2 separate regions of the Homo sapiens genome follow, and region 2 is linked to region 1. The links come from fine-mapping of genetic effects on gene expression. A gene starts in region 1. The other region holds a variant in brackets. All regions are shown on one strand. Distances are between the middles of the regions. Region 1 holds the start of SEC23B (SEC23 homolog B, COPII component). Region 2 overlaps POLR3F (RNA polymerase III subunit F).

Region 1 (4,402 bases):
CAGCCTGGGCGACAGAGCCAGACTCTGTTTCAAAAAAAAAATGAAGACTGTGGTCAGTAAAACTGTCCTACAGGCTAAACTCTCAAACCCAGATGATCCCAACTTCATTGAGTATTTATACATCCTGTTCATATCCTAAAATCTAGGGTAACACACAACTCAGCTATTGGGGTTCAAGGGAACAAGCCCCTCAAGAAAAGTAGTAAAAAGGCAAATTAAAGAGTCTATCAAATTAAAGTGGCCTCTCGCGCCCACTTCCTGAATATGGATAACAACTGTCTGTTATTTTGGGAAGTACCATACTGTAAATAATTTTGATTAAGGCAATAATATTGCATGGCTAGAAAAGCAAATGAATTACTCTACTACATAAAGCCCAGAACACAAGAATTCCAATGTTTGCTCCAACTGAAACTCTAAGAAATCTGTTTATTTCTGGCAACGGCAAGAACCTGAAGCACTGTGTGCACAGGAAGCACTCTGGAGCTTCATGGGAAGCAAAGGGATAACTAAAGTCGGAATGAAAGCAAGTTCTATCACAACTCTCAGCAAGTATGTCAGCAGATTTCATTAAATAACCGTCTCTCTCTCAAAACGTTCTTTATTAAAAGGCACTGGCGGCCGGGCGCGGTGGCTCACGCCTGTAATCCCAGCACTTTGGGCGACCGAGGCCGGTGGATGACCTGAGGTCAGGAATTCAAGACCAGCCTGGCCAACATGGCAAAACCCCGTCTCTACTAAAAATACAAAAATTAGCTGGGCGTGGTGGCAGGTGCCTGTAATCCCAGCTACTCGGGAGGCTGCGGCAGGGAGGACTGCTTGACCTTGGGAGGCATTGGTTGCAGTGAGCCGAGATCACGCCACTGCACTCCAGCCTGGGCGACAGAGCGAGACTCCATCTCAAAAAAAAAAAAAAAAAAAAAGAAGCTACTGCCTCCATCTAATGGTTTCCAAGCATGTACAGCCTAAGACCTGCTCCCTCCTTTTCCTACTGCCTGTTTCCCTCACCCTTCTAGGGTCTGGATTCTTAGCAGTGGACACATAATCCAAGGGGACTATAGAAGGTCCACTAATCATCTGAAGTTATGCGCATGAGGGAATATGCCGTTTTTCTAGGGAGATGGGTCCATAGCTTTTACCAAAGTATCGGGGAAGGTATCTGAAGAGGTAAATAACTGAAAGTATGAATTAGTGAATGAATGAAAGGCCTGGAAAGATAACAGGAGAATATGCCAAAAAATCTGAACCACCCTTATCGCGCCAACTCGTAACTTCTCAGGACACAGTGACCATGTGTATGTAAGAATAAGTGAGGTTTAATCCTTGAAGGGAGTCCAAGGACCTGGGTTCCAGTTCCAGCTGTCATGAAGCAAAAGTCGTTTCACTTGTCTGAGTCTTGAGTTTCTCAACTATAAAACGGGACTTGGGTCCTTCCAGGTGTGCGCACTCCGCAATTCTGGGGAAACTGGAGCCAGAAATCGGTCCCGGCCTGGTGCGGGACGACATCCGCAGGGGACTCCCGGATCATCCATTCCCCCGCTACCCTAAACTGTCAAGAAAAGGCCTCCTCCCAGAAGCCGCTCACCTCGCCCCCGGCAGAAACTCATACCCGTGCCCTCGGCCCTCCGTCACCTATGCGCCCCGCTCACCTGGCCGGAGCCGCTCACCTAGCTAGAGCCGTCCTCACCCACAGCTGCAACAAGCAGGCTCCGGCTCCCACCGCCAAGTCCAGCTCAGCTCTCAACCGATTGGCCAGCGCCCCAGCGCGTCATGCCACGGCGCTGTCCACTGGCCAATCAAAGAGCGCTTCTCCGACGGACTGGAGGAAGCGAGAGACTCAGAGAAGCTCTGCCACCATCTTGGAACAGGGCAAGACAGGTGTATGTCGCACTTCAAAACGAGAGTTCCTCGGAACACGTTTCCCCACCCCTAAACGTTTCTGTTTCAGAAAACCCCGGCGCCTGCCGCACCGTTGCCTAAGCGCAGCCAGCGCTCCTCAGAGGTTCGCCCTGATACAATATGACATCCGCTCGTCTCAGTGGGAAGTCCCGCTGATCGCCTTAGCTACCGGAAAGCGAGAACGATGACGTATGCTCGCGGAACAGGGAGCTGCACTGGTTGGAAGAAACTAAGGCTGCCGGAAGAAGGCATTAGCATGCGGAAGGGGCGGGGCGGGTGGTGAGCGCGGCGGCGCTTACGCACTTGCTGGTTTGGGAGTCGGTCTCTGTGGTTAAGTTTGAAGTACAGAGGTGTGGTGGTGCTTCACGTTACAAGCTCTCCTACCGTCGCTTGCTGTAATGTCTTGGCGCTCTCAGCGGAGGCTGGCACTAGCGCACAGTCCCTGTCATCCTTCTACATGGAGATAAATAATTGAGAACTGTAATATTCAACCATTTTAGGAGAGTAAGCTTAGAAATACATGGAACATAACTTTCTTTTAAAAAATAATTCCAACGTTTAGATTTAGGGGGTACACTGCGTATTTGTTACCTGGCTATGAGGTTTCGAATTCGAATGAGCTGGTCACCCAGATACTGAGCATAGTACCCAAGTTTTTCAGCCCCTCCCTGCCTCCCTCCCCACTCTAGTAGTCCCCAGCGTCTATTAATGTCACCTTTGTGTCCATGTGTGCCCAATGCTTAGCTCCCACTTTCAAGTGAGAACATGTATTTGGTTTTCTGCTTCTGCGTTAATTCTTTTAGGATCATGGCCTCCAGATGCATCCATGTTGCTGCAAAAGGCGCGATAGAACACAACTGTATAAAGCCACCACAACCATTTTTACACACGCTGACAAGTGGCAAACATGAACACATCATTACTGTGACTCAGAGTTGTAGTCTCTGTAGCATATAAAAATAAGCAAAACGATGTAAACATAAAATTATGCAAGAACATATCTAGGCATCCAAGAAGTATCCATTAATTAGCTCAATTTAATACTAAGTTTTAAGTTATCTACAGATCATAGAAATTATTAATAGTTTAAGGCACAAAGAAACAATTACTGTTAAATGTGAGAATGATTCAGTTTTGTTGAACAAATTCACATTTTTCAGGATCTTAAACAATGTAATGTTAATATTAGCTTATCAATAGTAAACTTTTATAAATTTAGGAAGTTCAGATTAATTATTCTCGGTAAGGAAACAAACTCAAAATGTACACATGTATAATACTTAACACTGAGAAAAGACATAGCTGGGATTTTTTTTAACCAAAACTTAATATTATTCGCCAAAGATTTGCCTTGATTATTTGAACCTGGATTCTTTCTGTACTAGCAATTTCTGTAAGAAAGATTGTTATAGGACCATCAGGTTCGATTGTCCATTGTGCGGTAACAGAAAGAATAGGAGTTGCAGCAGATAAAGAGTTCCATAATCAAGTGGCAGCCAAATGAGGAGACAAGAGCAATCCTCAAATCCACCTCCCCAAGAGATTAGAGATGGCATTTTTAAGAAGTCTGGAGGGGCAATGGGCTAAAGTGTGGGGATTTCTGATTGGTCAGGAAGTGAGAGGTGAAGTCATGGGACAGGGAGATGAAGAAACTTCATTCCAGTGTTGTTTCTTGGTGGAGGTCTTTATTTATTTATTTAAAAAAATTTTTTTTTTGTAAAGCAGGGTCTCACTTTGTTGCCCAGGCTAGTCTCAAACTCCGGGCTTCAGGCGATCCTCTCACCTTGGCCTCCCAAAGTGCTAAGATTACAGGCGTGAGCCACTGTGCCCTTCCTGGTGGGGATCCCTAGACAGTTTGGCATCAGCTGTTTTGTGGGAATTCAGGATCTGAAAAATACCTTAAGCAATTCCTGGGTACAAAGAGCTAGTGTCAGAGATTCTGTGGATAGGAGCAATCAGGGAGTAGGTGATCAGTGTGCTGCAAGGCTTTTGGTTAGTTAGCAGCTGCAGGGAAGTGAATTGAAGGGCACCAATGCACCCTGGTCAGTGCCTAACTAACCTGCCTAAAGGCTGGCTTGTAATCTTGTTAACCCTGTCAGGATGGTTTCAGCATTTTTAAGAAATTTTGCATGCATAAGTTTAATTTACTTATTTTCTGGAATTTTAGAAATAATTGATTTACATGTGTTTGTTTCCATAAGTGAATTATAACAGAGCTCCTTTAAGACATGAAATAATATAACTTATTAAAACTTTACAAAGGTAGTAAGATTTTTTTACTCCCACAACAAGAGGGGAAGGCCTTTGTTGATTACAGCCGGGAAGACACATAGACACATAGCATATAGCTTTGGTTCTGCAACTTTGGCCACAGGTCGAAAGTAAATTCAGAAACATAAAAATTCAGTGGACTAGATAACAAAAAGCTGTTCTCCTTCCCAATGGGCATGGAAGTCTTAACTGATTTGAACTCATAAGTAGACAAAAAGGCAAACAAACAAAA
Region 2 (4,402 bases), 32 kb after region 1:
AGTTGTCCATGCTGGAAAGACCAACCGCATGATTAGAGGGTTGGGGCTTTGGGCCACATGACATCAGTCCAATCTCTTGGGAGAAGAGAGGAGCTGGAGATTGAATTCACTCACATGACCAAGGATTCAATCAATCATGCCTGTATAATGAAACCCTAATAAAAACTTTGGACAGCAAAGCTTGGGTGGGCTTCCAAATTTGGTTAATGCTTCTGTCATACAAAATAATTTCACCACCCTAGAAATATTTCTCATGCTTCACCTATTCAACTTTCCCTACCATCCCTGCCCTCACCCCGATCTTTTTAGTCTGTCTAGTTTTGCCTTTTCCAGTATGTCATATAGTTGTAATCATACAGTATGTAGCCTTTTCGGACTGGCTTCTTTTACTTAGCAATATGCATTTAAGATTTACTCATATCTTTTCATGATAGCTTATTTCTTTTTATAACTGAATACTATTCTGGTTTGTCTATCCATTCACCTATTGAAGGATACCTTGGTTGCTTCCAGTTTTTGATTATGAATAAAGCTGCTGATTACGAATAAAGCTGCTATAAATATTCATGTAGTTATGTGGACATGAGTTTTCAAATCAGTTGGGTAAATACTTAAGAGCTTGACCTTTGGACAATGTGGTAAGACTCTGTTTAGTTTTGTAAAAACTGCCCAGTTTTTTAACAAAAGGACTGAAAATTTTGCATTCTTAGCAATGTATGAGTGTTCATCTTGGTCTGTATCTTGTCAGCATATGGTATTACCAATTTTTAGATTTTAGCTATTCTAATAGGTGTGTAGTGGTATCTCACTATACTAAATTTTATTTTAATTTGCAGTTCTCTAATGAAAAATAATGTAGAGCATCTTTTCATATGCTTATCTGCCATCTGTATGTCTTCTTTGGTGAGGTTCAGATCTTTTGCTCATTTTTAGTTGGATTATTTGTTTTCATTGTGTGTTTTTTTTTTTTTTTCTTTTTTTGAGATGGAGTTTCGCTTTTGTTGCCCAGGCTGGAGTACAATGGTGCAATCTTGCTCACTGCAACCTCTGCCTCCTGGGTTCAAGCAATTCTCCTGCCTCAGCCTCCCAAGTAGCTGGGATTACAGACATGTGCCACCACGCCTGGATAATTTTGTATTTTTAGTAGAGACAGGGTTTCACCATGTTGGTGAGGCTAGACTTGAACTCCTGACCTCAGGTGATCCACCCGCCTTGGCCTCCCAAAGTGTTGTTTTCTTATTGCTGAATTTTAGGAGTTCTTTGTATATTTTGGAGACAAGTCCTTTATCAAATATGTGATTTGCAAATATCTTTTAGTATGTAACTTGTCTTTTCATTCTCTTAATGTGTCTTGCAAAGCAGAGGTTTTCAAAAAATTTTGATAAACTCCAACTTATTAACATTTTCTTTCATAGACTACTATTGGAGTTATAGTCCAAGAATTCATTAACAAAGCCAAGGTCATGTAGATTTTCTATGTTTTCTTCAAAAAGTTTTATAGTTTTGCACTTTACACTGAGATCTAAGATTATTTTAACCCTTAAAAGGACACAGAAGTTCACCAACGGATGAATGAACAAAAGGTGATATACATCTATACAATGGAATTTTAATTGGCAATAAGAAGGAATAAAGCACAATATGGATAAATCTTGAAAACATCATGCTAAGTCAAAGTAGTCATACATAAAAGACTACATATTCTATTATTCCATTTATAGGAACTGTCCAGAATAGGCAAATCTATAATAAAGGCAGAAAATAAATTATTCGTTTTTAGGGCCTATGGAAAGAGAGGCTGGGAAACAAATACTAGTGGCCACATTTGGGGGTGATGAAAATGTTCTAAAATTAGAACAGCGGTGATGGTTGCACAACTCTTAGCTTATAGTAAAAACCAGTGACTGTAAATCCAAAGATTTTACACTTTAAAAGGTTGAATGAATTCTGTAGTATGAATGATGAATTATATTTCAGCAGAGCTGTTATTAAACATAAAGATGTAGAAGGAGGACTGACAAAATGAGGCTACATGATAGGGTTTTATTATATGATTTTTTCTA[C/T]CTTTGTATATATTTGAAATTATCCATTAAACAATGTGGAAGGGAAATGCTATTCTGATAAATAAAATCACTAATAAGCATCAAATTCTTATAAGTGATGTTATAATTCTTATAATTCTTGTTTTATTCAAAAATAAAAACTTGAAGCAACATATGTAAGCGGATATTTGAGGAAAGGTCTACTCACTGCCACAGACCTAACAGCTCTGAAATTATAAAATTTGAATTATAGCTGTAATTCTTATGAAATGTGTATTGAAGCAAACTTTATTCTAGGGGAATCTCAGTTCCTCTGATGTCTAAATCAGTGAGGTCAGGGGCAGATGTCCCCGAGGGAGCCAGCTCTGGAGCAGGGGTGGGGCAGGATGAGGAGCAGGAAAAACACACGTGTACTAGAAGAGAAGCTCCACCAAGGCAGGGATCTTTCTACGACTTGTTCATTAATGTATCCCAAGCACTCAAAACAGTGTCTGGCACACAGCAAACACTCTTTGTTGAATGAGAAAGCTAATATGTCGGGATAAAGTAAATTATCTTACACACCACAAAATCTAGGAAAAATGTTCACAGTTCCAAAGATTCTTCACTGAAGACAGTAAAGTAGTTTTAGATTTTTGAGTGGGTGAGTGAGACACCAAGAGCTAACTGTGTAGGGACAAGTCTAAGCAGCATCTCCAAACCAATCCAACATGAGCTAAATTTTTAAGTCTTTTTTGACCAGCTGTTCTAAATCATGACATAACTTCAAGAATAAAAACTTGAAGCAACATATGTAAGTGGGTATCTGAGGAAAGGACTACTCACTGCTACAGACTTAACAGCTTTGATAAGCTTTTTACTTTCCAGATTCTTCAGAATTTTGTTGATTTCTGTTAATGGCAAATTACTTTTATAGCGGATATCTCTGCTCCATATTCCTATAAGAAAGTAAAGTAAAATAAGTTGAACTCTGGTTTTCATGGATTTTTAATGTTATTCCTCTAACTTGTGTCTCATTCCAAAGCTAGCAGTATAAAGCTAACAGTAAAGAATGCTGGCTAAAGTAGCAAAAGTATGCTAAACAATAAATAAGTATAATGCTTTGTAAGACTTATTATAATGATTTATAATTTCTAACTAGAAATTTCTTGGAATCCCAGTGTGGCAAACTTTTAAAAAACTTATGGAAAGGGCTGGGCATGGTGGCTCATGCCTGTAATCCCAGCACTTAGGGAGGCCGAGGCAGGTGGGTCACCTGAGCTCAGGAGTTTGAGACCAGCCTGGCCAACATGGTGAAACTCTGTCCCTACTAAAAATACAAAAATAATTAGCCGGGCCTGATGGCATGCACCTGTAGTCCTAGCTACTCGGGAGGCTGAGGCATGAGACTCGTTTGAACCCGGGAGGCGGAGGTTGCACTGAGCCGAGATCACACCATTGCACTCCAGCCTGGGCAACAGAGCAAGACTCCATCTCAAAAAAAAGAAAAAAAAAATTATGAAAACGACGTTTTTATAATGGAAGGAAAAATCATGGATGCAATGGAATTTTATCATCTGTACCCTTATCTCTGTTTTCTGATACTTTCATTTTAGATTGTAAATGTGAAATACAAACTTAAATTTGGGTCAAGGTCAACTGCCATCCTCAAGTGGGACAAAAACACTCTTTAGATGAGTGTCTGCATGCATGTAATCCATTATTTATACAACATTGTATTTGTGAGATGGAAAAGGAAGCCTAGGGTTCTTATGGCTGCTAAAAGCCCTGTGTGAGAAGCAATGATTTCTTTTTCAAAGAAGGAAATAAGTGTTATATATGGAAAGGGAATGTATGTAAATATTTTGCTTTATTTTCTTCCCAATGTAATGGCATATGAGATAGGAAGATTAAAAAAATATGCAGAATGGCTTTCTCATAGGACTATTTTTAAAAATGTTAATTTTAATAAATATAAGAATTAGTTATGTAATTTCAGATTACATCTCAATTTTTCCAGCTAATATCAATGACTCAAATAGATCCCAAATTATTGTAACTTAGGATTGCAATTTAGATACAGTTCTTCAAGCGGGTAGAAGAGAAACTATAGCTGCGGAGGGACATCTGTTAAGACACTGCTACACCACACCAGCTTTCCTTTTGGTCCTTGCAAAAACGAGAGGTGTCAGCATCCACAATTTATAGATAAGATAAAGAAACTGAAGCTCACAAAGTTTAAGTAACTTGTCCATGGTCATATAGCTAGAAGGTACAGATTTAAAAAAAAAACTTAAATTTTATTTATTTTGAATAGATAATACATTCATGTGACTCAGAATTCAGACGTCTTTTTCCATCCCTGGACACAGCCCTTTAGT

The links.
Region 2: its variant is fine-mapped to the expression of SEC23B in whole blood (TOPMed, PIP above 0.99).

Annotation. Positions count from the first base shown.
Region 1 is chr20:18,505,238-18,509,639 of GRCh38, reverse strand. SEC23B (SEC23 homolog B, COPII component) reads right to left here and starts at 1,700. Exons shown (of 20, transcript NM_006363.6): 1 at 1,668-1,700. RefSeq lists enhancers at 1,430-1,479, 1,830-2,159.
Region 2 is chr20:18,473,653-18,478,054 of GRCh38, reverse strand. It overlaps POLR3F (RNA polymerase III subunit F), which reads right to left. Exons shown (of 9, transcript NM_006466.4): 5 at 2,868-2,980. Among named protein-coding and RNA genes, the nearest start is that of MIR3192, 5.2 kb to the right of the region's middle. The variant C/T (reference allele first, on the strand shown) is at 2,064.